7 linked regions of the Homo sapiens genome follow. The protein of the gene in region 1 purifies or fractionates together with the protein of each later gene. This does not show direct contact. Each region holds a gene or a part of one and is shown in the gene's direction. Other genes may lie near its edges.

What was found.
Region 2: the proteins of BCAR3 (region 1) and RTN3 purify together in Homo sapiens (co-immunoprecipitation; one large-scale study listed by IntAct). This does not show direct contact.
Region 3: the proteins of BCAR3 (region 1) and LPXN purify together in Homo sapiens (co-immunoprecipitation; one large-scale study listed by IntAct). This does not show direct contact.
Region 4: the proteins of BCAR3 (region 1) and IARS1 purify together in Homo sapiens (affinity purification with mass spectrometry, with the first as the bait; one large-scale study listed by BioGRID). This does not show direct contact.
Region 5: the proteins of BCAR3 (region 1) and TARS1 purify together in Homo sapiens (affinity purification with mass spectrometry; one large-scale study listed by BioGRID and IntAct). This does not show direct contact.
Region 6: the proteins of BCAR3 (region 1) and PFAS purify together in Homo sapiens (co-immunoprecipitation; one large-scale study listed by IntAct). This does not show direct contact.
Region 7: the proteins of BCAR3 (region 1) and GOT2 purify together in Homo sapiens (co-immunoprecipitation; one large-scale study listed by IntAct). This does not show direct contact.

The regions. Positions count from the first base shown.
Region 1 is NC_000001.11:93,674,832-93,679,146, reverse strand, and holds part of BCAR3 (breast cancer anti-estrogen resistance protein 3), read left to right. Parts: intron 1-4,205; coding exon of another isoform or gene 4,206-4,216; coding exon 4,217-4,315. UniProt on the Homo sapiens protein: Acts as an adapter protein downstream of several growth factor receptors to promote cell proliferation, migration, and redistribution of actin fibers.
Region 2 is NC_000011.10:63,715,630-63,719,944, forward strand, and holds part of RTN3 (reticulon-3), read left to right. Parts: intron 1-3,072; coding exon 3,073-4,315. UniProt on the Homo sapiens protein: May be involved in membrane trafficking in the early secretory pathway. Inhibits BACE1 activity and amyloid precursor protein processing. May induce caspase-8 cascade and apoptosis.
Region 3 is NC_000011.10:58,554,941-58,559,255, reverse strand, and holds part of LPXN (leupaxin), read left to right. Parts: intron 1-4,315. UniProt on the Homo sapiens protein: Transcriptional coactivator for androgen receptor (AR) and serum response factor (SRF). Contributes to the regulation of cell adhesion, spreading and cell migration and acts as a negative regulator in integrin-mediated cell adhesion events.
Region 4 is NC_000009.12:92,262,087-92,266,401, reverse strand, and holds part of IARS1 (isoleucine--tRNA ligase, cytoplasmic), read left to right. Parts: intron 1-848; coding exon 849-922; intron 923-1,278; coding exon 1,279-1,473; intron 1,474-3,346; coding exon 3,347-3,433; intron 3,434-4,315. UniProt on the Homo sapiens protein: Catalyzes the specific attachment of an amino acid to its cognate tRNA in a 2 step reaction: the amino acid (AA) is first activated by ATP to form AA-AMP and then transferred to the acceptor end of the tRNA.
Region 5 is NC_000005.10:33,450,794-33,455,108, forward strand, and holds part of TARS1 (threonine--tRNA ligase 1, cytoplasmic), read left to right. Parts: intron 1-1,547; coding exon of another isoform or gene 1,548-1,646; intron 1,647-2,495; coding exon 2,496-2,619; intron 2,620-4,151; coding exon 4,152-4,273; intron 4,274-4,315. UniProt on the Homo sapiens protein: Catalyzes the attachment of threonine to tRNA(Thr) in a two-step reaction: threonine is first activated by ATP to form Thr-AMP and then transferred to the acceptor end of tRNA(Thr).
Region 6 is NC_000017.11:8,262,487-8,266,801, forward strand, and holds part of PFAS (phosphoribosylformylglycinamidine synthase), read left to right. Parts: intron 1-433; coding exon 434-507; intron 508-622; coding exon 623-779; intron 780-1,088; coding exon 1,089-1,150; intron 1,151-1,288; coding exon 1,289-1,450; intron 1,451-1,725; coding exon 1,726-1,851; intron 1,852-1,983; coding exon 1,984-2,115; intron 2,116-2,408; coding exon 2,409-2,639; intron 2,640-2,801; coding exon 2,802-2,982; intron 2,983-3,069; coding exon 3,070-3,153; intron 3,154-3,375; coding exon 3,376-3,531; intron 3,532-3,747; coding exon 3,748-3,867; intron 3,868-4,014; coding exon of another isoform or gene 4,015-4,037; exon of another isoform or gene 4,038-4,266; coding exon 4,267-4,315. UniProt on the Homo sapiens protein: Phosphoribosylformylglycinamidine synthase involved in the purines biosynthetic pathway. Catalyzes the ATP-dependent conversion of formylglycinamide ribonucleotide (FGAR) and glutamine to yield formylglycinamidine ribonucleotide (FGAM) and glutamate.
Region 7 is NC_000016.10:58,716,502-58,720,816, reverse strand, and holds part of GOT2 (aspartate aminotransferase, mitochondrial isoform 1 precursor), read left to right. Parts: intron 1-1,561; coding exon 1,562-1,621; intron 1,622-2,128; coding exon 2,129-2,290; intron 2,291-2,516; coding exon 2,517-2,621; intron 2,622-4,003; coding exon 4,004-4,154; intron 4,155-4,315. UniProt on the Homo sapiens protein: Catalyzes the irreversible transamination of the L-tryptophan metabolite L-kynurenine to form kynurenic acid (KA). As a member of the malate-aspartate shuttle, it has a key role in the intracellular NAD(H) redox balance.

The DNA.
Region 1 (4,315 bases):
GTCATTTTTTAAAATGAGAAACCGTCAGGTTGAGTAACTTGTCCCAGGCCATACAGCTGGTAAGTCAGTGGCAGAGTAGAGATTTGAACCTGTAGATATCTGCCTCCAAAGCCTAGGTTCTGAGTCATACCATTTTATTTTTAAAAAATCAAATGGTACATAAGAAGTATATAATGACTAGGGACATTGAGACAGAAATATTTCCAAGTGGAGAAAACATGGGAGCCAGAGGCTGGAGACTTGGGTTTAGTCTCCATCAGCTGTCATTCCAACCGCTTGTTCCTATGGCAAGACCTTTGCATTTGCCAGATCCCTTGCCTGGAACCCCCTTCAGACCTTTTTTTGACTGGCTCCTTCCCTTGCCTTTTTTCAGGTCTCATGTCATTGTTACCTTTTCAGAGAGGCCTTCCCAGTCCACCCTAATGTAAAGTAGCTCTCCACCCGCAACAGTCATCCTTTGTCAGTTCATCCTGTTTATATTCCTTAGCGTGCTTACAACTTGGATGTTAACTCATTTTCTTGTTTGTATAGGTTGGATTCCTCCATGAGAGCAGGAGCTTGTCTAATTTATTATATCCTTAGCCTTGGTACACCATAAGCCCTCAGAGAATATATATCAAATGAACATTTATTTCCCTTATCTAGAAAAATGGACTGGGAATTACCAGTACTTATGGTCATAATTTATTGTCTGCTTCCTCCAGAGTATTATTAGCTTCATGAGGACAGACCACTTCTGTCTTGTTTAATGCTGTCCCCAACACCTAGCATAGTGCCAGCCATAAAGGAGACCCTCCATGAATGTATGCATTGAAGAATCAATGTTTCTATTGATTGAATGATACTCCTTCATCATCATTGAATTCTGTTTTGCAGGTAAACAATTATGACTCAATTGCTGTGTACCAAAAAGACTCACTAATCCAGTGGTTCTCAATCCTGGCTTCACATTGGTCAATACTGGAGACTGATGCTAATGTCCCGCCCACAGAGATTCTCATTTTATTGTTCTGGGCTGAGGCTTGGGCATCAGGATTTTAAAAGCTTCCCAGAGGATTCTTATGTGTAGCCAGGTTGAGAACCAATGGTTTACGTTTTTATAGTAGAACTCATTCCTTGCTTTGGTCCTTATAGGCTTGAAGAAGCCATGGTAAGAGAGAGCAGGGGTATAATTCATGGGTATTGTATGATTCCTGACAGTTTAAGAGGTACTTCACAGCTGTTATCACATCTGATAATAACAAGTTAAGGGATCTACTCTCTGGTTTAAATATTGCCTTTATGTTGATGATTCCTAAAAATCTCCATCTGCCCTCACTTCTAATTGTGCATACCAGTATCTAACCTCCTCTTAGACCAAATTGTTTGCTGATACCTCACATGCAGCAGCTCCAGTGCTGTGCTTGGTTCCTGCAGGGGTGGGTCCCCTTCTGAAACTAGTTGGCATGTTACAGCATCGCACCACCTTCTGTGGCTGTAGGCTCCTTCCTTCCAGCCAGATGCCTCAAGCTCTGATGTCTCATCACTCTCTCCTTTCTCTCCCTTTACCCAGCTGCTGCCCCAGGTCAGAATTCTTCATTGTTCCTCCATGGGTTTCACCATCAGCCTCAGTAACCTCCCTGCCTCCTTTTTCTCTCCCCTCCAGAACAACCAGAGTCACCTACTTGGGTACAGACTGGGTTCGGTCCTTCCCTTCCAGATCTTCCCTAGCACTTCCAGTCAAGTCCAGACACCTTGGCAGGGCCTTCAAGACTCCATGGTCTGATGCTAACCTAAGTTGCTTCTGGGAAATGCTTCTCGGCTTCACTCGAGCCACAGCACACAACTGGGAATGTCCTGAGCCTGTGGGGTCACTTCCATGCCTTTATGCATCTGCCATCCTCCCGGGAGGCTTTTCCCCACATGTTAACTTTTCAAAATGCTTTGTCTCTATTGTTGCCCTCTCTGAGCCTTCTCAAGTCCTTTTGTCAAAATTAATTGTTCCTTTCAGCATAAGGGCCTCTATGAATTATTCTCTCTTAGAGTTCATAGTCAGGTATTGGGCCTTAGGCATCTTTGTTTCTCCAGGTGTCTTGTATGAAATAGGCACTTAAATGTTTGTTGAATTGAAGGTAAGAAGGGGAAGTATTAACATCCCTTGTTATTGGAGAATAAATTGAGGTGTTGGTAACTTGAAGGACATTTTAGAACACTTTAGGACAATCTTGAAGTCTAAGTAGATCTTGGGGAAGCAGAGAGGAAACAGGCTGCCAAAGGCAGTGGTGCTAGGGTGACTTTTGCCCATCATGCTATTGGAAATAGATTTGATCAACAGTGTGGCCCTATGCACATGAAGAAGTTCTGTAGGGTGCTGCAGGCCTCCCCACGAGGTTCTTTGAAATGACCCAGTCCTGTCTGTGAGAAGTCACAACTGTGGTGTGTATGTGTGTGTGTAGGGTGGAAGAATCCTAGTCGGTTTACGTCACTTGTGTTCAGGCGGTGGGGCTAGGGAGTTTGGTTTCCTTTCTAATAAGGATGGTTAGCATTGAGCAAGTGCTGACAGTGTGCCAGGTACTGGCCAGAGCTGGGAGGGGCTGCACAGGACTCTGTCCTATTGTTCTGCACCCACTGTGAGCAGACCTTCTGTGTGGTCCCAGTTGGACGTGGAGCAGGCAGCCCCCAGAATTACTGGATTTGACAATGAACCGAGGACAGAGTTAAGATTGTACACCTTCAGTAAAGATGCTCCTTCCATCTCACCCCCAGGACTTCTGTACTTTCCCCTATCTCATGTGGAAGCAGTGGAACGTGTGTGTTTTGTTGTACACACACATACAAACACATGCGTTTTCTTTACACACTCTAATGTCATTGTCTCGGCTCCACTTCTATCAGCTTGTGGAGGGTTGCATTCTTCTTGGTTGTCTTCAAACCACGTCCCAAGTCCGCAGTTCCTTTGTAGAACTGACTCTGCAGTAGTGCTATTAAGTGAGGATTTTCATGCAAAGCTCTTCCCTGAGTAATGCAGTGGAAAGGGTGGTTTGTGAGGAAAGAGGGCTGCTGGGTTGGAGAACAGACTAAGGGGCAGCTCTCCTCACCAGCCCGTGGGAAGGGCTGTATGTTGGGCTTGGCCACCCTGCAGTGCTGTCCAGACCAGAGTCTGATATCATGACTAGTATAAGACAGATCCTGGAGCCTCTATCTCCAGGGGCCAGCCTTTTTTTTTTTTTTTTTTTTTTTTTGTCTCCTATTTCTTTTCCTCTGTGTGTTGGCCTTAAAAATGTATTATATAATTTGTCTTAGGCCAAAACCATAGTTTGCTTTGGAGCTGGAGGCACTGACTCTGCTCAGGGTAAATGCTTCTACTCATGGTCCTAGATAGGAGAGAGTGTCGGGGCTACTTGCTGCACACAGCCTGACGTGCCATTCTCCTTTCCCTTTCCATGCTTCCTTTGCCCCCCACCATTTTTTTTCTTTTCTTCTTCCCTTCTCCTGTCTCTTCTTCCCCGACTGTACAGGCACCCATGGGCATTACCTAACCCTGCTGGTGGCAGGCAGATCCTGACCCCTCTGTGGGGGCCATGTACATGCAGCCCCCACCCCAGTGGCTTTCCTCTGCAGCTGAGCCTGCTGGTGTATGGCAGAATGGCCCACCTCCTGACCCTGACCCTAGCCCGTGTTCACTAATTAGAGTGCATTGATTTATTTATAAACACTGGGTCTTTGCCAGAAAAATTCTGTCCCATCCTGTGTAGCACAACTGAGGACTGGTCTGGCACTGAAGACAATTCTAGCAGCTAAAGAATTTCAATAATCCCTGCCTGTTCTTATCATTTACAGGGCAGTGAAAATAATGTGAGCTAATTATCTAACAGTTTATAATATTTTCTTTCGTACATTTATTACTGCAACTATGAGTCCTCTCTTAATCATCTTTTTTTGCTGGTTGTGCATGGCTTATATGCCTCTAACAACTCTGAAAGTGTTTGCCCTCTTGGTTTTGCTGCCAACCCAGGACAATTCCTATGTAGGATCATTTCAGGAGGAAGATAAGTAAACTTCCCATTCTTATTAGACTCCACTAGTGATGCCATTAAATGTTGATCTGTTAATGGTCTGTGAATATTTCATTTTATGTGGCATATTTCCATTTCCTTTTGTAAGTAGGAAGTCAGTTCTTGTGACTCTCATAGATTTATACCTTCACTCTTTTCTTTCCCCCTTAGAGTTGAGAATTATGGCTGCAGGAAAATTTGCAAGCCTTCCCAGAAACATGCCGGTGAATCACCAGTTCCCCCTGGCCTCATCCATGGACCTTCTGAGCAGCAGGTCCCCT
Region 2 (4,315 bases), on another chromosome or scaffold:
CCTGGGCAACAGAACTAGACTCTGTCTAAAAAAAACACACAAAAAACACACAAAAAAACATATAAGCTGAACCTCCCCTGTGGGGTGGAGTCAGTTTGACTCACCTCAGAGTTGTTTGAAGAGAGAGGTTCCCAAACAGTTTTACCATAACCTTAGTTCACTGAATGTTTTGTGGTAGAAACACTGACTAGTAAGTTCAGTAACAATGCATGGCTCAGATTGTGGAATATTTCTGATTTAAATGTAATCTGTAGTACTTCACACTTCAGATTTTTGAACCTTTTAACCTACAATACTGGGCTTCATTTCTGTTATGCCCTAATCTAGTCATGCTGAATATCCATACTGTATAATGGTAGATGCAAACCATGTTTACTAAATTAGAACTACATATGAATTACAGTTTACTTCAAGTGTTTTGTTTTGGTAATATAGCTTTGCCACCAAGCTTTTACAGTTTTCCTTGAATGTACAAAGACTTTTTATTCTAATAACCAGATTACAGTTATACTATTTCTAAAGCTCAGCTCTTATTACATCAAGTTTCAGTGATGTGTTGAAGTAGGGGAACTTTATATGGCATTTCAAAACATTTTCATAATACTGGAATTTTATTTATTGTAAAATATTTTTGTCTTTAATAAAATAATTTTGAATGAAGTCATAATTTTGCTTTTATCTGGTATTTGGATGTTTACATGAAAAAGGGAACATAAGCTGAATAAAGGTAATCCCAAAAGAACTTCTCTGTCACATTTTCCCAGTTACTCATTCATGCTCAAGGCATTGCTGTCCTGAGCCTACTTAGGTCTCAGCTGACCAAGCTGAATCTTTGATTCACTTATTTGGGGCTATTTATTTAAGACCCACTTTGTCCCAGCTCCAAAGATACAACAGTATGCAAGAAAGACAGCGCCCAGGGTGGGCGTGGTGGCTCATGCCTATAATCCCAGCACTTCAGGAGGCCGAGGTGGGCAGGTTGCTTGAGCCCAGTAGTTTGAGACCAACCTGGCAATGTAGTGAGGCACCAGGTCTGTAGAAAGTTTAAAAATCAGGCCAGGCGCGGTGGCTCATGCGTGTATTCCCAGCTCTTTGGGAGGCCGAGGCAGGCGGATCACGGGGTCAGGAGATCGAGACCATTCTGGCTAACACGGTGAAACCCCGTCTCTACTAAAAATACAAAAATAAAATTAGCCAGGCGTGGCGGCGGGTGCCTGTAGTCCCAACTGCTTGGGAGACTGAGGCAGGAGAATGGCGCGAACCCGGGAGGCGGAGCTTGCAGTGAGCAGAGATCGCGCCACTACACTCCAGCCTGGGCGACAGAGCAAGACTCCGTCTCAAAAAAAAAACAAAAAAAAAAAAAAAAGAAAAGAAAGTTTAAAAATTAGCCAGGTGTGGTGGCATGTGCCTGTGGTCCCAGCTACTTGGGAGGCTGAGGTGGGAGGATAGCTTGAGGCCAGGAGGTCAAGGCTGCAGTGAGCCACAATTGTACCACTGGCACTCCAGCCTGGAGGACAGAGGGAGACCCTCTCTCAAATACAAACAAACAAATAAATGAAGTAAGAAAGCACCAGCCCTTGGGATATTTGTTTTGATCCTTTTCCCCAGTAAAAATTTGTTAGAGTGGGAAGTTAGAAAACAGTGTGGTAGATTGATGGCTACTATGGTATTAACTGATAAGACTTAACGTATTACTTTGAGAAGGATATTTTCTATTTTAAAAGTAATTCTGGAGTTAACTCTGTCTTTTTTTTTTTTTTTTTTTTTTTTTTTGAGACAGTTTCACTCTTGTTGCCCAGGCTGGGGTGCGATGGCGTGACCTCAGCTCACTGCCATCAATGTCTGCCTCCTGGGTTCAAAGGATTCTCCTGCCTCAGCCTCCCGAGTAGCTGGAATTACAGGTGCCTGCCACCACGCCCGGCTAATTTTTTTGTATCTTTAGTAGAGATGAGGTTTCACCATTTTGGTCAGGCTGGTCTCGAACTCCTGACCTCAGGTGAGCCACTGCACCCAGCCAAGTTAACTCTGTCTTAACCAAAGAAATCAATTTGCACAGTACAATATTGATTTAAATGACAAGTTAGTACAAGAGATTTTGGAGGGGCCAGGCGTAGCGGCTCACACCTGTAATCCCAGCACTTTGGGAGGCCAAGGCGGGTGGATCACTTGAGGTCAGGAGTTAAGAGACCAGCCTGGCCAACATGGTGAAACCCCATCTCTTCTAAAAATACAAAAATTAGCTGGGCTTGATGGTGCCTGCCTGTAATCCCAGCTACTTGAGAGGCTGAGGCAGGAGAATGGCTTGAACCTGGGAGGTGGAGGTTGCAGTGAGCTGAGATTGCGCCATTGCACTTCAGCCTGGGCAACAAGAAAAAGACTCCGTATCAAAAAAAAAAAAAAAAGATTTTGGAGGGGGTCCACCTTTTTCAGTACCCTTTAGTTTAGAACATCACAGCTATTTATTTGTACATGGGACAGATTCTCCCTGTGGATAGAATAGAATAATTCTAGTCTCATTTTTCAGATTCAGGAAGGGCCCATTGCATCTCCTAAAAATCAAAAAAGTCTGGCCACTAGTTTTTTTCCTTTTCAGATTGTGAGACTAACAGATTTATAGAGGCAGTCTGTGCTCTGAATTGTTCAGCTTACAGATTGAAGTCTATCAACCCTTTATAGTATCAGGTTATTTGTTTTGTATAAATTATTTTGCTTTTGTTGATTAGCTCTATCAAAGAATAAAAAACCTCCCAAGATTTCTCAATCTTACCGCCCTTCTTTATGCTTTCTCTGTACAATGGAAAAGTAGACCAAAAGTATTTGTCATGAAAATTTTTTATCATTTGCAGTTTGTGGCATGATATGGCTTTTCTGTTTCACTGTTGGCAGTTTTATGCATGTCCTGTAGGATAACTTGATCGTTTTGTTACATATTTATGTGTGTATATATACATCCTGTGTGTGTATATATATATTTATGTAATTTAAAAAATAAAAAGCATGCTGCTTGGCTTGGCTAGCTAATGTGTAATTGTACCTGGTAAACAATTTTTTTCTTTGAAATTCTGATCATAGAGGGATTGAGCTCTCTTTGCTCTGATGAGCCATCTTCAGAAATTATGACTTCTTCCTTTCTTTCATCTTCTGAAATACATAACACTGGCCTTACAATACTACATGGAGAAAAAAGCCATGTGTTAGGGAGCCAGCCTATTTTAGCCAAAGAAGGAAAAGACCACTTGGATCTTCTAGATATGAAAAAGATGGAAAAGCCTCAGGGGACCAGCAACAACGTATCAGACTCTTCAGTTTCTCTTGCAGCAGGAGTTCATTGTGACCGTCCTTCTATTCCAGCCAGTTTCCCAGAGCATCCTGCTTTTCTCTCAAAGAAAATTGGTCAAGTGGAAGAGCAAATAGATAAAGAGACCAAGAACCCAAATGGGGTATCAAGTAGGGAGGCTAAAACTGCATTGGATGCTGATGACAGATTCACTTTGCTGACAGCCCAGAAACCACCTACTGAGTACTCTAAGGTAGAAGGCATTTATACATATTCTTTGTCTCCATCCAAAGTTTCAGGAGATGATGTTATTGAAAAGGATTCCCCTGAATCACCATTTGAAGTAATTATTGACAAAGCAGCATTTGACAAAGAATTTAAAGACTCATATAAGGAGAGCACAGATGATTTTGGTAGCTGGTCTGTGCACACTGATAAAGAATCATCCGAAGACATTTCAGAGACTAATGACAAGCTTTTTCCACTGAGAAATAAAGAGGCAGGACGTTACCCAATGTCTGCATTGCTCAGTAGGCAGTTTTCACACACAAATGCAGCACTGGAAGAGGTGTCCAGATGCGTGAATGATATGCATAACTTTACTAACGAAATACTGACTTGGGATCTGGTTCCCCAAGTGAAACAACAGACCGATAAATCTTCTGACTGCATCACAAAAACTACAGGACTTGACATGAGTGAATATAATTCAGAAATTCCAGTTGTAAATCTTAAAACTAGCACTCATCAGAAAACTCCTGTATGTTCTATTGATGGGAGCACTCCCATCACTAAATCAACAGGTGATTGGGCAGAAGCATCTCTCCAGCAAGAAAATGCTATTACTGGAAAACCTGTACCTGACTCTTTGAATTCCACAAAAGAATTCAGTATCAAAGGTGTGCAAGGCAATATGCAGAAACAGGATGACACACTTGCAGAATTACCTGGATCTCCACCTGAGAAATGTGACTCTTTGGGTTCTGGAGTGGCCACAGTGAAAGTGGTTTTACCTGATGACCACCTGAAAGATGAAAT
Region 3 (4,315 bases), on another chromosome or scaffold:
ATAACCACCTATGGTATATATAAATGTGTATGTGTATATATATAAAATTCATATTTTGCCAACACTGCATATTATCCCTCTGTTAAAATTTCAACTAATAGGTAAATATTAGTATCTCATTGCTTTAAATTGCAAATTTAAAGATTAATGAGGTTGAGGGTATTTTTATATAGTAATAAACATTTGAGTTTCTTTTTCTGAAACCTGCTTTTTAAAAGAATCTTTAGCTCAGGTTTCTATTTTTCTAAATTATTTATACATTTCTTTAAAATCTTGAATATTATGTTTTAAATATTTATTTATATTTAAGTTTTGTGAACTTAGCTGTATCAATATTTTTTTCATTTTTGAAATCACTTCAGAATTTTATGTCCATCTTAGGAAAACCTTCATTACCCCAAATTGTAAAATATATTCTTCATTTTTCTATTATCTTTACATTTAAAAATATTGATATCTATCTTTAATTTGTCTCAAATTTATTCATGTATTTGGTGTGTTGGGGATCCATATTTATTTTGTACCAAATAGGTTGTTATTCTTTGAGTCGAATAGTCTGTTTTGGATGATTTGAAATGCCCCATTGCTCATATAGGAAGTTCTTTTAGGTGCAGGAGCCTGTTTCTGGGTTTTCTAATCTACTCCTTTGACCTATTTGTTTTTCTTTTTCTTCTTCCTTTCCTTTCTTCTCTTTTTTTTTTTTTTTTTTTTTTTTGACAGGGTCTCATTCTGCTTCTGTTGTCCAGGCTGGCATGCAGTAGTGTGATCACAACTCACTGCAGCCTTGGCCTCCTGGGCCAAAGTGATCCTCCTGCCCCAGCCTCCTGAGTAGCTGAGACGACAGATGTGTGCTACCACATCTGGCTGATTTTTAAATTTTTGTAGAGACAGGGTCTCCCTATGTTGCCCAGGCTGGTCTTAAACTCCTGGGTTCAAGCAGTCCTCCTGCCTCAGCTTCCCAAAGGGATCACAGGTATGAACGATCGCACCCAGCCCTATCTTCTTTACCAACATCATACAAATTTAATTATTGTTACTCTATAAGACACCACATCTATCAAGACAAATCTTCCCTCCTGTTTTTTTTTTTCTTTACAACTTTTAATTTTTATAGAGACCAGGTCTCTCTCATGTTTCCCAGGTTGTTCGCAACTCCAGGTCCCAAGTGATTCTCTTACCTGGACCTCCCAAAGTGCTGGGACCACAGGTGTGAGACACCACACACCCCTCCTATTTTGTTTTTCCAAAATTGTCTTGAGTGTTCTATCCCATAAATGTTAACATCATCTTATTAATTAGCTTGAATAATTATATCAGAATTTTTATTTGAATTACATTGAATTTACAGTTTAGGGGAAACTGACATAATATTTATCTTCATTTATATAGGCTTTCTTTTCTAAAAATAAATTTTATTGTGCATATTTAAGGTGTACAATATTATGTTATGGGTTATGAATAGTTAGTAAAATGGTTACTATAGTGAGGCAAATTAACATATTTATTATCTCACACAGTTACACATTTTTGTTTGTTTGTTTTTGTGGCAAGAACAGCCAAAATTTACTCTTGCAACAGGAATCCTAAATACGATACAATTTCATTACCGATAGTTCTTATGTTGTACATTAGATCTCTAGGCTTGTTCATCTTACATATCTGCTACTTCATATTCTCTAACCTACATGTCCCCATTTTCACCCCCTTTCCTGCCTCTCATCACCAGTGTATCTACATATTTGACCTTTTTAAATGACAAAAGAGGATTCCACCTATAAGTGAGATCATGCAATATGTTTCTTTCTTATTTAACTTGGTATAATGTCCTTCCAATTCATCAATGCTATGACAAATAGCAGAATCTCCTTTTTTTAAGGCTCACTAATATTCTGTTGTGTATGTGTGCATATTTCACAATTTCTTTATTCCATTGGTGTCCATCCATTGATGGACACTTAAGTTGTTTCCACCTCTTGGCTATTGTGAATTGTGAATATTGTGGCAATGAACATACGAGTGCAGAGATCTTTACGAAGTGGTAATTCCATTTATTTTGTGTATGCCCAGAAGAAGGATTCCTGTGTCATGTGGTATTTCTATTTTTAATTCCTTTAGAAACCTGCATATTATTTTCTGTAATGGCTGTAACAATCTACATTCCCACCAACAGTGTATAAAGGTTCTTTTTTCTCCATACCCTGGCCAACATTTGCCATCTTTTGACTTTTTGAGAATAGCCATCTGTTTGTGAGTGGTATCTCATAATAGTTTGATTTGCATTTCCCTGATGATTAATGGTGTTGAATACCTTTTCATATACCTTTTGGCCATTTTTATTTCTTCTTTGGAAAAATATCTATTCAGGTCCTTTGCTCATTGTTTAATTGGATATGTGGATCTTCCTTTATGTCTGCCAATGGTTTTTCTTCATAGAATTCTTACACATTTCTTGTTAAATATATTATTTGATATTTTACAACTTTTGTTAGAATTGTGAACAGGTTCTTTTTTTCGCATTGGATTTTCAAACTGCTTATTGATGATCAATAAGAAAGAGACTGTTTCATTTCATTCTTGTATCTAATCACCACCCTGATCTTTTTTATTCATTCCAATGGTTGTTCAGTCATTTATCTTACATTTTCCTGGGAAATTATTATACCATCTATTTTAAAAGAAAGACTGAGGATGTGCTGCCTTTTTTTCAAATATATAATTCTCTTATTTTACTTTTAAATGTGTTTGATAATGTATTCTAGAATAATGTTGAAGATTGCCAGTGATAATAGGATCTATGTCCAACTTATCTCTTAATTAGATATCTGCTTAATAATTATGAGGCTTGCTATATATTTCTTATGGAAACATTTTATCAGTTTATAGACTTTTTCTTATTTTTCTTGATATTCAACAACAGGAATGGTTGTTAAATGTCTTCCACGGCTTTTTCAGCACATATCATTGTGTTTATAAAGCTTTTCTCCTATTTGTTAATGAATTATATTAATCTTTTTCCTAATTTTGAATTTCAAACTATTTTTGGATAACCAGTATAAACACCACCTAGCCATGACTTGTTAAAATTTTTTATGTTTTTTAAAAAAAACACATTTCAACTGATTTTATTTAACCTTCTCTCTTCACACATGCACATCGTTTTTTCTTTGATTTTAAAAAGTTTCTGTGCTATTTATAGAATGAATTAGGTAATGTTCCATATTTTTCTATGTATTTGGGAATTTTATACAATGATCCCCCAAAAACTGTCAGTTTTTGTTTTATTTCTTGTTTTCTGTTTCACTAATTTATGCATTTATTCCTTCTGTTGAATTATTTTAGATTTTTCTGAGACTCTTGACTTGGAAGTTTTATTTATTTCTGATCTTTCTCACTTTTTAATATCACACTTAAGTCTATTTATATATTTTCTTCTCAATAACATTTAGCTTTCAACTCCCAAAGGCGTGTGTGTGTGTGTGTGTGTGTGCATGTGTGTGAGTGTGTGTGTGTGTGTGTTTTCATTGCTATTTCTAACTGGTTTGAAAATTCAGTTTAATTTTTTTATCCCAAGAATTATTTAGAAGTGCTTTGTTTTTTCTTAAGTGGATAGTTTTTATGATTAATTTGTACTTCTATTCACTCCAATCTAAGAATATGGTCTATATGATGTACTTTTAAAAATTTATTGAGCTTTACTTTGTATCTTCATACATAGTTAATTTTACTAATGTTTATGCAGCTACTTGAATAGAATCTGTATTCTGTTTATTGGGTCCAAAGTTTTATTTATTTATAATTTACTTACAATTATATGAATATGAAATCATCATCATATATATTATCTAAACTTTCTGCACCAGAGATTTGCAAACTTGTTCTGTAAAGAGGCAGATAGTAAGTTTGTTAGGCTTTTGTGGACTATAAAGTCTTTGTAGCAACTACCCAACTGTTCAGAAAAGCAGCTATGGACAGTAGATAAATGAATGGACATGGCCAGATTTGATCCAAGGACCTTAGTTTGTTGATGCCTGCTCTATATTCTAGTTTATTTTTATTTTTTGACAAAAACTGACAGGAGATATAATACTTTTTATAATTAGATGACCAGGGAGAAATAGAGAAAAAAGGCAGAGAGAACTTGTTTAGATTTTTGGTCTAGTACATATTAATATATTTTTAAAATACCCCCATCTCTGATTTTAGCTTCATATCCAGGGGATTCATTATTACAGTTGCATTTCCAGTACTTTATGTGTGGTTTAACATTATTTGAGTTTTGATTTGTTCATATGACTTTTTTGTTTTCCCTCTATAG
Region 4 (4,315 bases), on another chromosome or scaffold:
ATCTAGGTCTGTGATGTTTGCCTAAGGAAATCACCCTAACAATGCATTTCTCAGAATGTATTCCCACCATTAAGCACTGTATGACTATAATTTAGCTCTAGCTTTTTCTTGGGAAGATTCTAGATTAATGAGCCAGATTCAGGTGCCAGGAGGAAACTAAAATGCCTTAGAGAAATAATCTAAGATGTTTCACTTATGCCAGTTACTTTGACAATTTGCACATAATAAACCCTTAATATCCATTGAGAGTATGGCTATGAATGTTTAAGATTCTCTCTAGGTAGGGACTCCCTCTGATACTGGGGTGGAAACAGAGGAGCAGTGGCAACCCTGGCCTCTTCAGAGACTAAGAGTAGGCTGTGTCTTTCATGAGAGAGAAGCCACATTAGCAAATACTATCCTTCGGCCCAGATTGGTGTGTTAATGTGCCTTTAAATCATCAGTCTCAGGCTGGGTGGCTCACGCCTGTAATCGCAGCACTTTGGGAGGCTGAGGGTGGCTGATAGCTCGAGTCCAAGAGTTTGAGACCAGCCTGGGCAGCATGGCGAAACCCTGTCTTTACTAAAAATACAAAAAATTAGCTGGGTGAGGTGGTGCCTGCCTGTAGCCCCAGGTACTTGGGAGGCTTAGGTGAGAGGATCACCTGAGCCCAGGAAGCTGAGGCTGCAGTGAGCTGTGATTGTGCCACTGCACTCCAGCCTGGGCAATGGTAGTGAGACCCTATCTCAAAAAAAAAGGAAAAAGAAAATCATCAGTCTCTCAAAGTAAACATGCATGCTATATAAATTAACTCAGTATGCTCTGTTTGGCTCTAAGGAGCTCCTGCTATTGAACTTTGTTTTTGACAGGTGGTATGCATTGGGTCAGTGGCGGAACTTGAAGAACTGTCAGGAGCAAAGATCTCAGATCTCCACAGAGAGAGGTCAGTTTCTAAATGTTCGATTCACTTCAGTTTTACGATTCTCCTATTAAGACCTGGTCTCTAGCAGATTACAGAGCCACACATGGAAGTGACTAGCTTGCTGAATTACTTTGCTGATGACTCATGTCATATTGCAGTATTGTGGCCTCTGTCCTTGTGAAATGTGAGGTGAATGGTGCATAACCTTTCAGATGGAGGATTCATGGTGCTCTCTGAAAGCCTTTGAGAATTGCTGATATTTCTGTTTGCAAATGTGTATAATATCTTGTCAGGGTTTTGTGTTTCCTATTAGCAATTAAACTGCAAGTTCTGTTATGCTTACAGTTAATAGAAATGACTACTTTTCTGTTTGTTAGTGTTGACCACCTGACCATTCCTTCACGCTGTGGGAAGGGATCCTTGCACCGCATCTCTGAAGTGTTTGACTGTTGGTTTGAGAGTGGCAGCATGCCCTATGCTCAGGTTCATTACCCGTTTGAAAACAAGAGGGAGTTTGAGGATGCTTTTCCTGCAGATTTCATTGCCGAGGGCATCGACCAAACCAGAGGATGGTATGCCTCCTTGTTCTTTCATCACGTGTTTTATTGATTTTATTTTATTTAGGGAGTATTTTACTAAGTCACTGCCATTTATCTACTGGGTGATGGAGAGATTGTGGCAAATAAGACAGGCTACATTCCTGCCCTCTCCCCTCCACCACCAAGCACGGACATTAAAGTGCCTTTTGAGTAGGACTCTCCCACTACAATAGGGCTGTAGTTTTACAATTTCAATGATCTCACTGGCATTTTGGAATATATGTGTTACACTGGATGTTAAAATGATAAAAAAAGTTATGTGTTCTTAGCTTACGTCAGATCATTTACTCAAATGTTTGAGTATTTGCATAAAAGACAGTAGTTTGGGTGCTAGAAATTTGAGGGATAGTTGGTAATGTGCTCAGATATTGAGGCTAGCCTTATAAATCAACATTCTAAAAAAATCCAGATTTTTAAAAAATATACATATGAGAGAGGATTTGGGCATTGATTTTTATCTGGTGCCTTATGTAAAACAGTTCCTTAATTGGAAGAAGGTGAATTACTTTCTTTCCATGGATTGGCTTTGCTGGCCCAGGCTTTATTTACTTTTTTTTTTTTTTTTGAGACAGAATCTTGCACTCTGCTGCCCAGGCTGGAGTGCAGGGGTGTGATCTCGGCTCACTGCACCCTTCGCCTCCTGGGTTCAAGCAATTCTTCTGCCTCACCCTCCTAAGTAGCTGGGTCTACAGGCATGCACCACCATGCCCAGCTAATTTTTGTAGTTTTAGTAGAGACTGGGTTTCACCATGTTGGCCAGGCTGGTCTCGAACTCCTGACCTCAAGTGACCCACCCGTCTCAGCCTCCCAAAGTGCTGGGATTACAGGCGTGAGCCATTGCGCCCAGCCCAGGTTTTAATTATACATTCACAGTAATGTTTCTGCAGGGGTGTGTTAAAGGAATTGTTGGTGTCATTTTCTCTCTTTGACAGCTTTGGGTAATCATTGAATTCAAGTCTTCATGTTCTGGAATGTGCTGTCTTCAGATTCCAGTCCTTTTTGTCTATAGGAACAGCTACCCAGCACAAATTCTGTTTTTAGAAAGGGGTAGATGCCTTACCAATGAGCTTGTTCCTTTGAGGAGTAGCAAAGTCTGTTAGCTGGTAACAGTCCTCATGTGGATCCCGTGTCCTTGGTGCCTGCCTCCTTCTCCATTCCTGAGGCCTGGGCTACCTCTCCTGGGCACCAGGGCTCCTCCCAACTCTCCTTTAGAAGTGGGAGGGATATCTGGATCAGTGTTTATGTTAACTATGGGGTCTGGTCTCCTCAGCTCATGTCCCTTGATGTTCTCAGAGTGCAGGACTAGGTAAGAGAGGCAGGAAAGCATCACCCCCAGGACAGTGGTCAGGGATATGAGTTCATTTGGGAAACAAGCTAGGTAGCACATAAATGAGGTACATAACATTTTACAGAATAAAAGCATTTTCTAGTCTGCCTTATCACTTTTGGGTGAGAGTGCATTTTGCATCTTTTGTCATCAAATTGTCTTTTCCATATGATCTTGTGCCAAATTCAAAACCCATCCTTCATCTTCAGCTAGGTGCTTCTGGGTGGTCCTGAGAGGCCACCCAGTGCTGCCATGTGGCTCTCCACACAGACTTCCTGGGAGCTCTGGTAACAGAGAAATGGTCAGTAAATCATTCCAGACGTTTATTTCAATGCTTCTTTCAAATCTTAGACAGTAATTTGATTGGTCTCCAGTAACCAGGATTAAGAATCATTGCTTTAAGTGATTCTCAAGAAGTGTGACTTATCAAAAATAGAAATTCAATGAATAAATACAGTTTCTTTCTTATGCTTGGACTTCATTTCTATTTTTATTGAACTGTTTGGGGTTTTTTTTCAGGTTTTATACCCTGCTGGTGCTGGCCACGGCCCTCTTTGGACAACCGCCTTTCAAGAACGTAATTGTGAATGGGCTTGTCCTGGCAAGGTAGGTCAACTTTGTTGTAGTGACGGGTGGAACTTTGTCTCCACTGTTTCTTAAGAAGGAGTGCGTGAGAGCGGTCAACTTTGTTGTAGTGACAGGTGGAGCTTTGTCTCCACTGTTTCTCAAGAAGGAGTGTGTGACAGCTAAGCCTGATGGAGGAGGAGGAAGGGGAGGACTTTCAGATTGTGCTACTGCTAGTAACATAATGCTACTAGTGATATTACTAGTAATAAAATAGCATTTACTAAACTTAGCACTTTATGAAATACTTTTGCTTATAGATCTTATTTAATCTGTACATCAGTCCTTTCATGTAGATTTTGTTGTCCTTTTTTTAACACACGAGGAAGCTGTGGGTTCTAGAGACCACAGGTGCCCAGGATCAAAGCTAGTGACAGCCACACTGGGCTTGACCGAGGTACTCTGCCACCAGATCCCATTCTTCCCCTCATCTGAAACTTCCTCCCAATGGGCATTATTTCCCACATTTTGCTATTATAAGGAAGTCTCATTTTTCCTTTACTTTATTACCTCTAGTCATTAAGAATAAAAATAAACATAAATGAAAATTTTAAAATGAAATATTTTAAAATAGAATTTGTGCTGAGTACCCACACAGAAATCCTACTTTATATGCTGTGTGAGGAGGAAGAGGATGTCACCTAACATTTTGTGCATCCTTATTTTTTGCCAGGCCCCACTGTGTGCATTTTCACATTTTAACTCATTTAATCCCCAGAACCATTTGAGATGGGTCCTATAATCCCTTTGTGACCTTTGAGGAATCTGAGGGACAGGAAAAAGTGACTTGCCAAAGGACACACAGCAAATGAGTGGTAAATGCAAATTTTGAACCCAGGCAGTCTGCCTCTGTAGTATGTGTAC
Region 5 (4,315 bases), on another chromosome or scaffold:
TATTCTTCAAGAACTATAAAATTCTAAGTTGAATTACATAGCTGGGCGTGTTGGCTCACAGCTGTAATCCCAGCACTTTGAGAGGCCAAGGCAGGCAGATCACCTGAGGTCAGGAGTTCAAGACCAGCCTGGCCAACATGGCGAAACCCTGTCTCTACTAAAAATACAAAAATTAGCCAGTCATGGTGGCGCACACCTGTAGTCCCAACTACTTGGAGGCTGAGGTGGGAGGATAGCTTGAACTCGGGAGGTGGAGGTTGCAGTGAGCCAAGATTGAGCCACTGCACTCCAGCCTTGGTGACAGAGCGAGAGTCCGTCTCCAGGGAAAAAAATAAAAGGTTGAATTACATAAAACATTGATGGGCTTTAGCTCTGGAGTTAAGTCACTGATCTGCACTGAGAATACTTTATGAAATTTTTACAAAAGTCCAGAATAACTTTTTGTTCTGTGAAAAATTATAACATTGATAACAGGCTATTTAAAGATTCACATAATTAGTGGTGAATATGAAAGGGAAGGACAAAAAAGACATGTTCCATTTGCGTCAAAAGGTTTTTCTTTGAAGTTTTGTTATAAATCTTTTTTTTTTTTTTTTGAGACGGAGGAGTCTCGCTCTGTCGCCCAGGCTGGAGTGCATTGGCGCCATCTTGGCTCACTGCAAGCTCCGCTTCCTGGGTTGACGCCATTCTCCTGCCTCGGCCTCCTGAGTAGCTGGGATTACAGGCGCCCGCCACCACGCCTGCCTAATTTTTGTATTTTTAGTAGAGACGGGGTTTCACTGTGTTAGCCAGGATGGTCTTGATCTCCTGACCTCGTGATCCACCCGCCTCGGCCTCCCAAAGTGCTGGGATTACAGGCGTGAGCCACTGCGCCTGGCCGTTTTGTTACAAATCTTAAAGATTATTTTACCCTTCTTTGAAAAATTGAAATGATCCAGTATGGCCCATGTGTAATCTACATTTTCAGAGTAACTCTATTCTTAGAATCTTGGGGCTCCATATTGGATCATAAGATAAAAGTCATGTTCTTCCCAAAGAATATAGAGAATATGATTATCCTTTTTATCAGTTCTTTAATCTCCTGAAAACTGTTTTACACCAATATGATGAAATACATTTCTCTCTGCCAAATTCATGTTATGTTTTGTGAAATGCATGTATTTATTTTATTGACTCCATCTGATCTCAGGAGGAAAGAAAACATTGTTTATAACCTATGGTAAAGTTAGTAGGAGCATTGAAAATAGAAAGGAGTTTGTTGTTTACTTTCTGTTTGGTTCTTTTCTCTTGATCCTCAGATAGGAGTTGTATACATTTTGTTGTAAACCCTTAGACATAGAGAGCCACCAACACAGCAAGCCTGGCTAGCTTAAAGCCTTCTAGTGGTAGGTTTCTTTGAGATTTACAGTGTAAAGGGTGTATACTTTTTCTTCACAGTGTAGAATGTTGCCTACCTTCGTTGAGATGTCCAGGCTGTTATAGACTATTATTTCTCTAGCTGTGCATTTAGATGTATAATCTGGCTCACCTACTCAACTCTGCTCTAGTCACACAGCTTCCTGCAAAAACCTCTCTTCACTTGCATCTCTGCTTGCATCTGTGGCCATTCCCTCATCTGGAATGCCATGGCCTCCTCTTTTCTTCCTGTGAGTGCTTTATCCTCAAAGCCTTTCCAGATGACTCTGACCTGTACTGCTTTCCCTCCTCAGAACTCCTGTAGCTTTTACACTCTGTGTGCTCTGATATTTCATCACTTGATGATACTTTATGTTCGATGTTGTATATTGGGTGTGTAATGTTTTTACTCACATTATATGGAAAGTTTTATTAAATAGTCTTTCATTTTACCTCTATATTTGTTATAAATATTATCATAGGCATTTGCAGAATTTATTCTGAGGTTAGCATTGTCTGTCAAAGAAAGGATCTGGTGTACATTTTAAGCAGGAAGAGGAACAGAGAAGTTATTTAGTAGGCCTTTTTTTTTTCCTTTGGAGTCTACATAGCTTAGCTTTGTAGAAAGAGAAAGGTGGGTGTATTAAGAGAAAACTCGGTGTGGTGACTTGTGCCAGTTGTCCCAGCTACTCTAGAGGCTGATGTTGGAGGATTGCTTCAGGCCAGGAGGCCAGCCTGCGCAACATAGCAAGACCCTGTCGCTAAAAAATTAAAAAAAAAAAAACTTATTTGTTGGAGAAATTAAGATTATTCAAACCATTGGAAATTGATAGTGCTTATTTATCAGAGTTGCCATATCTGCTTAAACAGGAGGCATTCAATGTCAAATGATAATGTTCTGCATTTTCAGGATCTTCCAGTTAGGTTCTTAGGTACATTTTTGGAATTTGTTGTTTTTATCATTATATTTCAGAAAAATAGAGATACATCAATATAAAAAAACAATATATAATAAAAATAGTGTTTATTTTCCTGTTTTCAAATTAGATTCGTGTGTACTTATATATGTGTGGACTTTTTTTTTTTTTTTTTTTTTTAAGTCAAGGCCTGGCCGACAACACCGTTATTGCTAAAGTAAATAATGTTGTGTGGGACCTGGACCGCCCTCTGGAAGAAGATTGTACCTTGGAGCTTCTCAAGTTTGAGGATGAGGAAGCTCAGGCAGTAAGTTGCTGATTAGTATTCATTGAATTTTAGGATGCAGATTCACATTTGAAGTCTTTTCCAGCTCAGTCCTGCTGCGATTGGGTGGCTAACATTTATTGTTGTCTCACTGTCATATTTGAAATCTTCATTTTGTCCTTCATTTAGGGAACATAATAAAAGTGCTTGCCTTAGAAAATAAAGGGGTGAAGCTGAATAAGTCTTTTCATTACTAGACACTTCAATAGGGAAAATGTTTTGGGAATTGTATTAAACATTGATTAAGCAAGTAAAAATTGTTTTCTAAACTGTGAACACTATTTTATTTTAATTTTTTTTTTTTTTAATGATGGAGTCTTGCTTTGTCACTCAGACTGTAGTGCAGTGGTGCGCTCTTGCCTCAGTACAACCTCCACCTCCCAGGTTCAAGCTATTCTCCTGCCTCAGCCTCCCAAGTAGCTGGGATTATAGGAGCGCACTACCACACTTGGCTAATTTTTGTATTTTTAGTAGAGATGGGGTTTCACCATGTTGGCCAGGCTGGTCTTGAACTCCTGACCTCAAGTGATCTGCCCACCTCGGCCCCCCAAAGTGCTGGGATTATAGGTGTGAGCCACTGTGCCTGGCCTCTAAGCTATGAACACTCTAGCAAGATATGTACATTTGACAAATAAATTTGAACCTTACTTCAAAGCACTGCCTTTATTGGATAATTTCTGTATTTTTTTCTCATCTTAAGATGCAAATCTGCTGGATAACACTATAAAAGTCAACCTGCATGTGATGACAAGATTTTCTTTTTAATTCTCCATGGCTGTGTATCATATAAGGGGAGACAAAGTATTTTGTTTTAGTGATGATTGTTCACTTATGTATGTGGATTAGTGGTTTTCAAATGTATTTTGGAGCCCTCAAGTTTCTTACGAGAATTTTTTAATGTCACTTTGGTACCTTAATACTAAATCTTGAAAACATTGCTTTGGGTGTATTCTGACTCATCCCAGTGATTACTTTAAAACCAAGTACTGCCATTTGATTTCAGTGTACAGATGTTTGTCCTCGTGTTTTGTCATTGTGTTGTGGGGTCGGGTTGTACCACCTTTGTTTTGGGCCAGTAACAACATGTAATTTCTAAGTGATGTTCCATAGCCAGCTAAAGGCCAGATCACAGTGTCTGAGACATGGTGCTGTGGGCACATTGACTCAAAAGAACCTGGGCCATTGCAATCAATGAGTTAGTCACATTGTGAGTAGCAGTTGTTTTCAGAGAACAAAGTCTATGTCATTTAATTAGTGATGCCAAGTTTAGTTTAATTTGTTTGAAAACAGCTAAACCAGATGATTTCCAAAATAAAAATACACTAGTAATTGGAAGCCTTTTGAATTACTTTGGCTATGGATAGAAACAGTAGTTTATAGATTTAGAAATTTAGGATTTTATATATTGGGTTTACTTGTAGTAAATATTATCATCTGTCTCTTTCAGACAACCACATTAATTGGCAACTTGTATGCCAAGACTCAGACCATGCCATTTTTCTTTAAATTTTCAGGTGTATTGGCACTCTAGTGCTCACATAATGGGTGAAGCCATGGAAAGAGTCTATGGTGGATGTTTATGCTACGGTCCGCCAATAGAAAATGGATTCTATTATGACATGTACCTCGAAGAAGGGTAAGCCATCAACTAGATAAAGAAAACTGAAGTCAATGACTA
Region 6 (4,315 bases), on another chromosome or scaffold:
ACCCAGTCAAGTGGTAAGGCTTCTGGGCTAGGCAGGGTGGCTCACGACTGTAATCCCAACACTTTGGGAGGCCGAGGTGGGCGGATCACCTGAGGTCAGGAGTTTGAGACCAGCCTGGCCAAGATGGTGAAACCCTGTCTCTACTGAAAAAATACAAAAATTAGCCGGGCACGATAGCAGGCGCCTGTAGTCCCAGCTACTCAGGAGGCTGAGGCAGGAATATCGCTTGAACCCAGGAGACGGAGGTTGCAGTGAGCTGAGATCACACCACTGTACTTCAGCCTGGACAACAGAGCGAGACTCCATCTCAAAAAAAAAAAAGCTGGTCAGGCTTCTCCCTAACATCAGCTTCCTCTGTGTTCACGCTGCCTTGCTTTCGAGGCCTCTTCTCGTGGCTTCCCCAGTGTTCTGATTCTGCCTTCCCTTCTTACAGGCATGGAAGTTGTAAAGGTTGGAGGTCCCGTCTACAGGATTGGAGTTGGAGGTGGAGCTGCTTCATCTGTGCAGGTGAGTGGGAATTGCTAAAGGTGCAGAATCCTTGATATAACCGGGCCCCAGGCATAGGGGAGCGTATAGGAGCTTCCAGTCTCGCTGAGCTGAGCTATGCCATATATGCCCCCAGGTGCAGGGAGATAACACCAGTGACCTGGACTTTGGGGCTGTGCAGCGAGGAGACCCGGAGATGGAACAGAAGATGAACCGTGTGATCAGGGCTTGTGTGGAGGCCCCCAAGGGAAACCCCATCTGCAGCCTTCATGATCAGGGCGCTGGTGGCAATGGTGAGGAAAGGAGTTGGAACAAGAGACTGGGCCTGCCTGGTATCCTGCCAGGTTTCGTTTAGGGAGAGGTATCAGGAATCTCCAACCAACCACCCAGCTCTGGGTCCCATTCTCCATGCTCTGTACATTCTAGACAGGTTCAGGGTTGGAAGGGTGGAAGCCTGCTGCCGTGGGATGATTGGTGGTAAGGGTGCGGCAGCAGTTGACACAGGAACACACCAAATTACAGGCCCCTTTGGAGGCCAGGGACTGCCCTTTGTTGCCTGACCACCACTAGGTCACTGCTTCTCCTTGCAACCCTCTCACCAGGCAATGTCCTAAAAGAGCTGAGTGACCCAGCTGGAGCCATCATTTACACCAGCCGCTTCCAGGTGGGTCTCGTCCCCTGAAGTGTGACATTTTCCCACCCCTGCCAGCCCCAGCCCGCTTCCACCCATCTCTCTTGCAACAACATGAGACGTGGGAGTGCCCACTGGCCCTTCTCTTTCCTCCCCGCCGTGGCTGTGCAGCTTGGGGACCCAACCCTGAATGCCCTGGAAATCTGGGGGGCTGAGTACCAGGAATCAAATGCTCTTCTGCTGAGGTCCCCCAACCGGGACTTCCTGACTCATGTCAGTGCCCGTGAACGTTGCCCGGCTTGCTTCGTGGGCACCATCACTGGAGACCGGAGAGTGAGTTGGCCCAGGGAGTTGGGAGCAAACACTGGGGCAGACATGAGCCACCTGGGTATGGGCTAGAGGGAGAGCTGTCAAGGGAGAGAGACGAGAGGAAGATGGGAGGTAGTGGCAAACAAGCTGTGGGGAATGTTGGATCCAAGGAGGGGCAGGGACTCAATATGGAAACCAAACAAGGAGTGGAAAGCACATTTGTGCCCTGATTTCTAGGAACATTCCTTGCTGGTGTTCATAGTCTCATCCCCTCTGGGTGGGGTCCCTGTGGTCTATAGATAGTGCTGGTGGACGATCGGGAGTGTCCTGTCAGAAGAAATGGCCAGGGGGATGCCCCCCCGACACCCCTGCCAACCCCTGTGGACCTGGAGCTCGAATGGGTGCTGGGCAAGATGCCTCGGAAGGTATGTGGGGTTGAGGGGATGGGTTTTTCCTGTGGTCCTCTCCACACCACCCTTTACCCTACGTGCACTTTGTCGCCTGTGTGCCCAGCCCGCCCCAGGTGTTCACACTGCCTGTCGCTGTCTGTGTTGCAGGAGTTCTTCCTGCAGAGGAAGCCCCCCATGCTGCAGCCTCTGGCCTTGCCCCCAGGGCTGAGCGTGCACCAGGCTCTGGAGAGGGTTCTGAGGCTGCCCGCCGTGGCCAGCAAGCGCTACCTCACCAATAAGGTCCTCCCTGCACCCTTCCTCTGCCCCCTGCCTCCTTCCTCCGCTCAGCCTCTTCTGCCCTCCCACCCTTAGAAAGTGCTGTGGGGGTTTTTGCCTGGCCCTGCAGGAAGCAGCAGGGGCAGGGCAGCCACCCTGATGGCCTGGTCTCCCTGCTACCCACCTTCTAAGTAGAGCTGTTGTCTGCATTGGGGGAAAGACAGGCCTCCCACTGCCCTGAGTGCCTTGGGGGCATGTGCGGGAGCTCAGGCTGTCCCTGTCCCTTGCTCTCTTGCTAACCCCACCTGGTTCCACAGGTGGACCGCTCTGTGGGAGGCCTGGTGGCCCAGCAGCAGTGCGTGGGGCCCCTGCAAACTCCTCTGGCAGATGTAGCGGTTGTGGCACTGAGCCATGAGGAGCTCATAGGGGCTGCCACAGCCTTGGGAGAACAGCCAGTCAAGAGCCTGCTGGACCCAAAAGTCGCCGCCCGGCTGGCCGTGGCCGAAGCCCTCACCAACCTGGTGTTTGCTCTGGTCACTGACCTCCGGGTGAGTTCTCCCACAGCTTCTATCCTGGAGCCCCCGGGCTTCAGGACCCTTCCACATCCATCTGTAGCCCTTCATTTCATGTTGCAACCTCCCAGTCCGCCTGCACCCCTGGCCTCTCCACATTTCTCTTCCCCTCTAATGCTGTGCCTCTGCCACCCCCAGGATGTGAAGTGTAGCGGGAACTGGATGTGGGCAGCCAAGCTCCCAGGGGAGGGCGCAGCTTTGGCGGATGCCTGTGAGGCTATGGTGGCAGTGATGGCAGCCCTGGGTGTGGCAGTGGATGGTGGCAAGGACTCCCTCAGCATGGCTGCTCGGGTTGGCACTGAGACCGTGCGGGCTCCTGGTGAGGTGTGGGAGCCCCAGGGAGGGGAGGAGGAACTATGGAGCTGGGTTGGCAACTCATTCCTTTGGACTCCTCCTTGCTCTACAGGGTCACTGGTCATCTCAGCCTATGCCGTCTGCCCAGACATCACAGCCACTGTGACCCCAGACCTCAAGCATCCTGAAGGGAGAGGTATGGACATGGCCCCATCCTTTGTGATCTTTGCTTGTGTGATCTTTGTTTGGCTCCTGCTTTGTGAGTGCTGGGCCCCCATCTCAACACTGGGCTGTGGTGTTTTCTGGGACTGATTGTCTAGGTGTCTCACCACATGCTGGGAATAGCAGTGCTGTGAGCCCCTCAGGGATGGGTCCTCCTGAGCTGTTCCCCTCCCCTCACCCCTCCCCGTCTCCCCAGGCCATCTGCTCTATGTGGCTCTGAGCCCTGGGCAGCACCGGCTCGGGGGCACAGCTCTGGCCCAGTGCTTCTCCCAGCTTGGGGAACACCCTCCAGACCTGGACCTTCCTGAGAACTTGGTGCGGGCCTTCAGCATCACTCAGGGGCTGCTGAAAGGTGAGTGAAGACCCCTGGGGAGATAGCGCACAGGGTGCCAGGCGTGCAGCAGGCGTTCACCATCTGAGCAGTGGGGCAAAAGGGACTCCAATGGACGATGTACCCCAGATCCCCTGACATTCTGACACACACTCTTGATGGACTGACTCCGGAAGGTGGGGTGGGGCTGTCAGGTTTGGGTCCCGAGGTTGCTGAGCTTTCTTCTCCTTCCTCCAGACCGCCTCCTCTGCTCAGGCCACGATGTCAGTGACGGAGGCCTCGTCACATGCCTGCTGGAGATGGCCTTTGCTGGAAATTGCGGGCTACAGGTGGATGTGCCTGTCCCCAGGGTTGATGGTAAGGAACCTGGGGTCTAGTCTCAGGCCCGGGCTGCCTTCTCTACCCTGCAGACCCCATTTCCAATATATTAAAGAGTGGAGTGCCCTCCAGTCCCCTTTCCCTGAGTCTTCCCTGACTAGCTTTTCTGTGCTGTCTCTCTGACAGCTGAACTGGATGGAACTGGCTGACACCCACCATGTTCCTGACTGCACCCCTCTGAGACTTCCCATCCCTGAGATGTCCATGATGAAACATCCTCAGTCCTGCCGTCCTAGCCCTCATCCTCCCTGATCCCTACCCTACTCTCTGGCTGCATCCCTCTGACCCTCACCCTGGCCCTTCCTGCATTTCCCTGATCCCGCCCCAACTCCCTTGGCCCTTCTTGCATCCCCCTGACTCCCCACATTGCTCTCCCAGTCCTGTCTGTGCTGTTCGCTGAGGAGCCAGGCCTCGTGCTGGAGGTGCA
Region 7 (4,315 bases), on another chromosome or scaffold:
GTCAGGAGTTCGAGACCAGCCTGACCAATATGGTGAGACCCGCCCCCCCGTCTCTACTAAAAATACAAAAATTAGCCAGGTGTGGTGGTGCACGCCTGTAGTCTCAGCTACTGGGGAGGCTGACATGGGAGGAATCCTGGAACCCAGAAGGTGGAGGTTGCAGTGAGCCAAGTTTATGCCATTGCATTCTAGCCTGGGTGACAGAGCACGAACCTATCTCAAAAAAAAAAAAAAAAAATTGTTGTGCCTTTGTGAATCGTAGTATCATCGGACCTACAGTGAGGTTTTTATTTCCATCATGCCAAAGCTTGCAGGACAAACTATTTAAAATAATTTTTTAGTTGGGTTTTTCCCTCTTTAATCTACTACCACCCCAGTCCAGAAAAATACATTTGTGCTTTGTAGAGCCTTGTACTTCTACAACACCTTTAAAAACAACAAACAAAAACCTCTTAAACCTATGGTAATTTCTTGTTTGTCCCTTAAAGTTGACCAATTTGAATAAGGAGATTCACCTTAGGCATCTTCCTATTACCCAAAACATGAATATTTTCAGATTATGAAAACACATAGAAGGGGACCTCTTAGAAAACCTTTATTTATTTATTTATTTAGAGATGGAATTTCGCTCTTGTTGCCCAGGCTGGAGTGCAATAGCACGATCTCAGCTCAACGCAACCTCCGCCTCCTGGGTTCAAGCAATTCTCCCGCCTCAGCCTTCCTGAGTAGCTGGGATTACAGGCATGCGCCAACACACCTGGCTAATTTTGTATTTTTAGTTGAGACAGGGTTTTTCCATGTTGGTCAGGCTGATCTCGAACTCCTGACCTCAGGTGATACGTCCACCTCGGCCTCCCAAAGTGCTGGGATTACAGGCATAAGCCACTGCGCCCGGCCAGAAAACCTTTAAAATGTTGTAATGTTATCCTTGTATACTTGTTGACTTGCTTTTCAAGGAACTTTGATGTTTAGAGAGTCATTCTACTTTGTATAATTCTAAAGTAATGTTTTAATGTAGTGACTGTTCTCAGTGTCTTTTTATTTTATTTATTTATTTTTTTTGAGACAGAGTCTCACTCTTTTGCCCATGCTAGAATGCAATGGCACAGTCTCGGCTCACTGCATCCTCCACTTCGCAGGTTCAAGCAATTCTCATGCCTCAGCCTTTCCAGTAGCTGGGATTACAGGCATGCGCCACCATGCCCAGCTAATTTTTGTTTTAGTAGAGACAGGGTCTCGCCATGTTGGCCAGGCTGGTCTCGAACTCCTGACCTCAGGTGATCCACCCGCCTTGGCCTCCTAAAGTTCTGGGATTACAGGCATGAGCCACCGCACCCAGCCTCTCAGTGTCTTTTTATATCTTTTATATAATTCACCCCTTTTTCATATTGAGGAGGAATTTTTGTGTTCTGAAAGTTTCCCGTGTAACATGAAATGATACTGACAGGCCATAAAGAATGAGCTTCTGAAGTATGAAAGGTCCTGGACAAAGCAGTGGCCCTGGGTCTGGGCCTGTATAGAGAGTGTTGCACATCACTGACCGTGGGTATCTCTCCTTCAGTTTGTCACTGTGCAGACCATTTCTGGAACTGGAGCCTTAAGGATCGGAGCCAGTTTTCTGGTGAGTCTGGAAGCTTCTTCAGGAAAGAATTATAAATTCCAGATGACAGGGCTTCCTGTTGTGTGTGTATTTGACTGTTGATGCAGAAGTAGATTTCTTCTTTCCGTGAAGTTTGCAGATGTCCTATTCTCATGAAAAAATGAAAGGACTTTGAAGAAATTACAGGAAAGATATATTAGTGATGATGATAAATTCAGTTCACTAGGAACTTACTATTTACTAGGGAGCTTTTGCATTTTAACTTGTTTAATCCCTATGAGAGAGGTACAATTAACCCCCTTTACAAGTGAAGAAAGCAAGACCCAGAAAGGTCCTTGGCTACATGGCCAGTATAACTGTCAGAGACTATTCCAACCCAGGCAGTCTTACTGCTGAGTCAATACTGCTTCTCAACCATAGAGAGAAACTGGGTTTCAGCAGAGAAAAATGTTCTCTCAATAAAACACATCAACATTTTTTTGCCTCTCCTTTGTTCATTTTTCTGTTTCCTTTCGTCCCATCTTTTAGCAAAGATTTTTTAAGTTCAGCCGAGATGTCTTTCTGCCCAAACCAACCTGGGGAAACCACACACCCATCTTCAGGGATGCTGGCATGCAGCTACAAGGTTATCGGTATTATGACCCCAAGACTTGCGGTTTTGACTTCACAGGCGCTGTGGAGGATATTTCAGTAAGTGTGGCTTTCAGGGTGAGAGAGGTGAATAAAACTCCTTGCTTGCGGACATTTGATGTCTCCCACCATGTCCCAATATCTGAGTTAAAATACTGGGGAAGAGCTGATTCCCAGGGTTCTGGTTACCTTTGTTACTTATCAAATGATGACGATCCTGTGGCATTTCAGATAAACCATTTCCTTTAAAGCTGCAAAGTCGTCTCTTGGCTGTTTTTCTCTTTAGAAAATACCAGAGCAGAGTGTTCTTCTTCTGCATGCCTGCGCCCACAATCCCACGGGAGTGGACCCGCGTCCGGAACAGTGGAAGGAAATAGCAACAGTGGTGAAGGTGAGGACGATGAACTCACTGGCGACAGTTCTGTGTTTAGTAACCAGCTTTGGAGGCTTAATTTGGCAATGTCTCAACAGAGAGTCTTAACCTCGAACCTGCGTGAAATGTCCACACAGGTGGATAAGCTGCCAGAAAAGGGCTCCCCATTTGCGTGATTAGCAGTTCTGGGATTGATGACGCATGAGTATTTGAAAGTAATTTTTTTTGGCTGGGCGCGGTGGCTCACGCCTGTAATCCCAGCACTTTGGGAGGTCGAGGCAGGTGGATCACCTGAGGTCAGTTCGAGACCAGCCTGGCCAACATGGTGAAACCCCGTCTCTACTAAAACTACAAAATTAGCTGGGCGTAGTGGCCCATGCCTGTAATCCTAGCTACTTGGGAGGCTGAGGCAGGAGAATCACTTGAACCCAGGAGGTGGAGATTGTGGTGAGCCGAGATTGTGCCACTGCACTCCAGCCTGGGCAACAAGAGCAAAACTCTGTCTCTAAAAAAGAAAAAAAGAAAATAATTTTTTTCCTCATCCTGGATGTAGGGAACTCTGATAAAACCTGTCCACTGGCCCCAGGATGTCTGCTGTTGATGCCTATATTCGCCCTGGTCAGTGGTTGCTTATTGATCTTTTTAAACACTTTTTCATGTCCTCTCCTTTGCAGCATTGCCATGATCACTCTCAAAGTGTAGCCAGCTGTCAGAGAAGACACTAGTCAAAATTCCTAGGGAGGAAAATGTTATTCCTGTTGTCTCATGTCCCTGTTTTCCCTTTTCACTCCTTTTCATTTCCCTTTCTTTTCTCTCTCTCTCTTTTTTTTTCTTTTGAGACAGAGTCTCACTCTGTCGCCTTAAGCCAGAACGCAGTGGCACAGTCACAGCTCACAGCAGCCTCTACCTCCAGGGCTCAAACAATCCTCCTACCTCAGCCCCTGAGTAGCTGGGACTACAGACATGTGTGCCACACCTGCCTGGCTAATTCTTCCTATTTTTCACAGAGACAGCATCTCACTTTGTTGCCCAGGCTGATCTCAAACTCCTGGGCTCAAGTGATCCTCCCACCTTGGCCTCCCAAAGTGCTGGGATTATAGACATGGGCCACCATGCCTGGCCAGTTTCCCTTTCTTTAACTTCTGTCAAATCTAAGCTGCAAACAGAATGAGACAGAAACAGCATTTGGAGAGCACTTTCAAGATAAAATGGTTCTAATGATGTTGTCTCGTGAGTCCTGGGTATAAGTTGAGTCTTCCAGGATTACGTTAGCCCCAGAAAAGGCTTATTGTGCTTATTGGGACCATGCCCACCTCACATAAACATCTTTCAGACTTTTATAAACATCTGGGGCCTCTTCAGAAAGACTGCTAAAGCTTCGATCTTTCGTTCCTTCTCAGAAAAGGAATCTCTTTGCGTTCTTTGACATGGCCTACCAAGGCTTTGCCAGTGGTGATGGTGATAAGGATGCCTGGGCTGTGCGCCACTTCATCGAACAGGGCATTAATGTTTGCCTCTGCCAATCATATGCCAAGAACATGGGCTTATATGGTAAGCTACAGCATCCAGCATGACACATGCTCTCATGCTGGGAGAGAATGCCACGAGGGCATAGAGCTTGTGGGTGTGTGTGTGTGTGTGTGTGTGTGTGTGTCCATCCATGTCCATGTCCCTCCCTACCCTAAGATGAAAGACCAGTATCGTAGATTTTA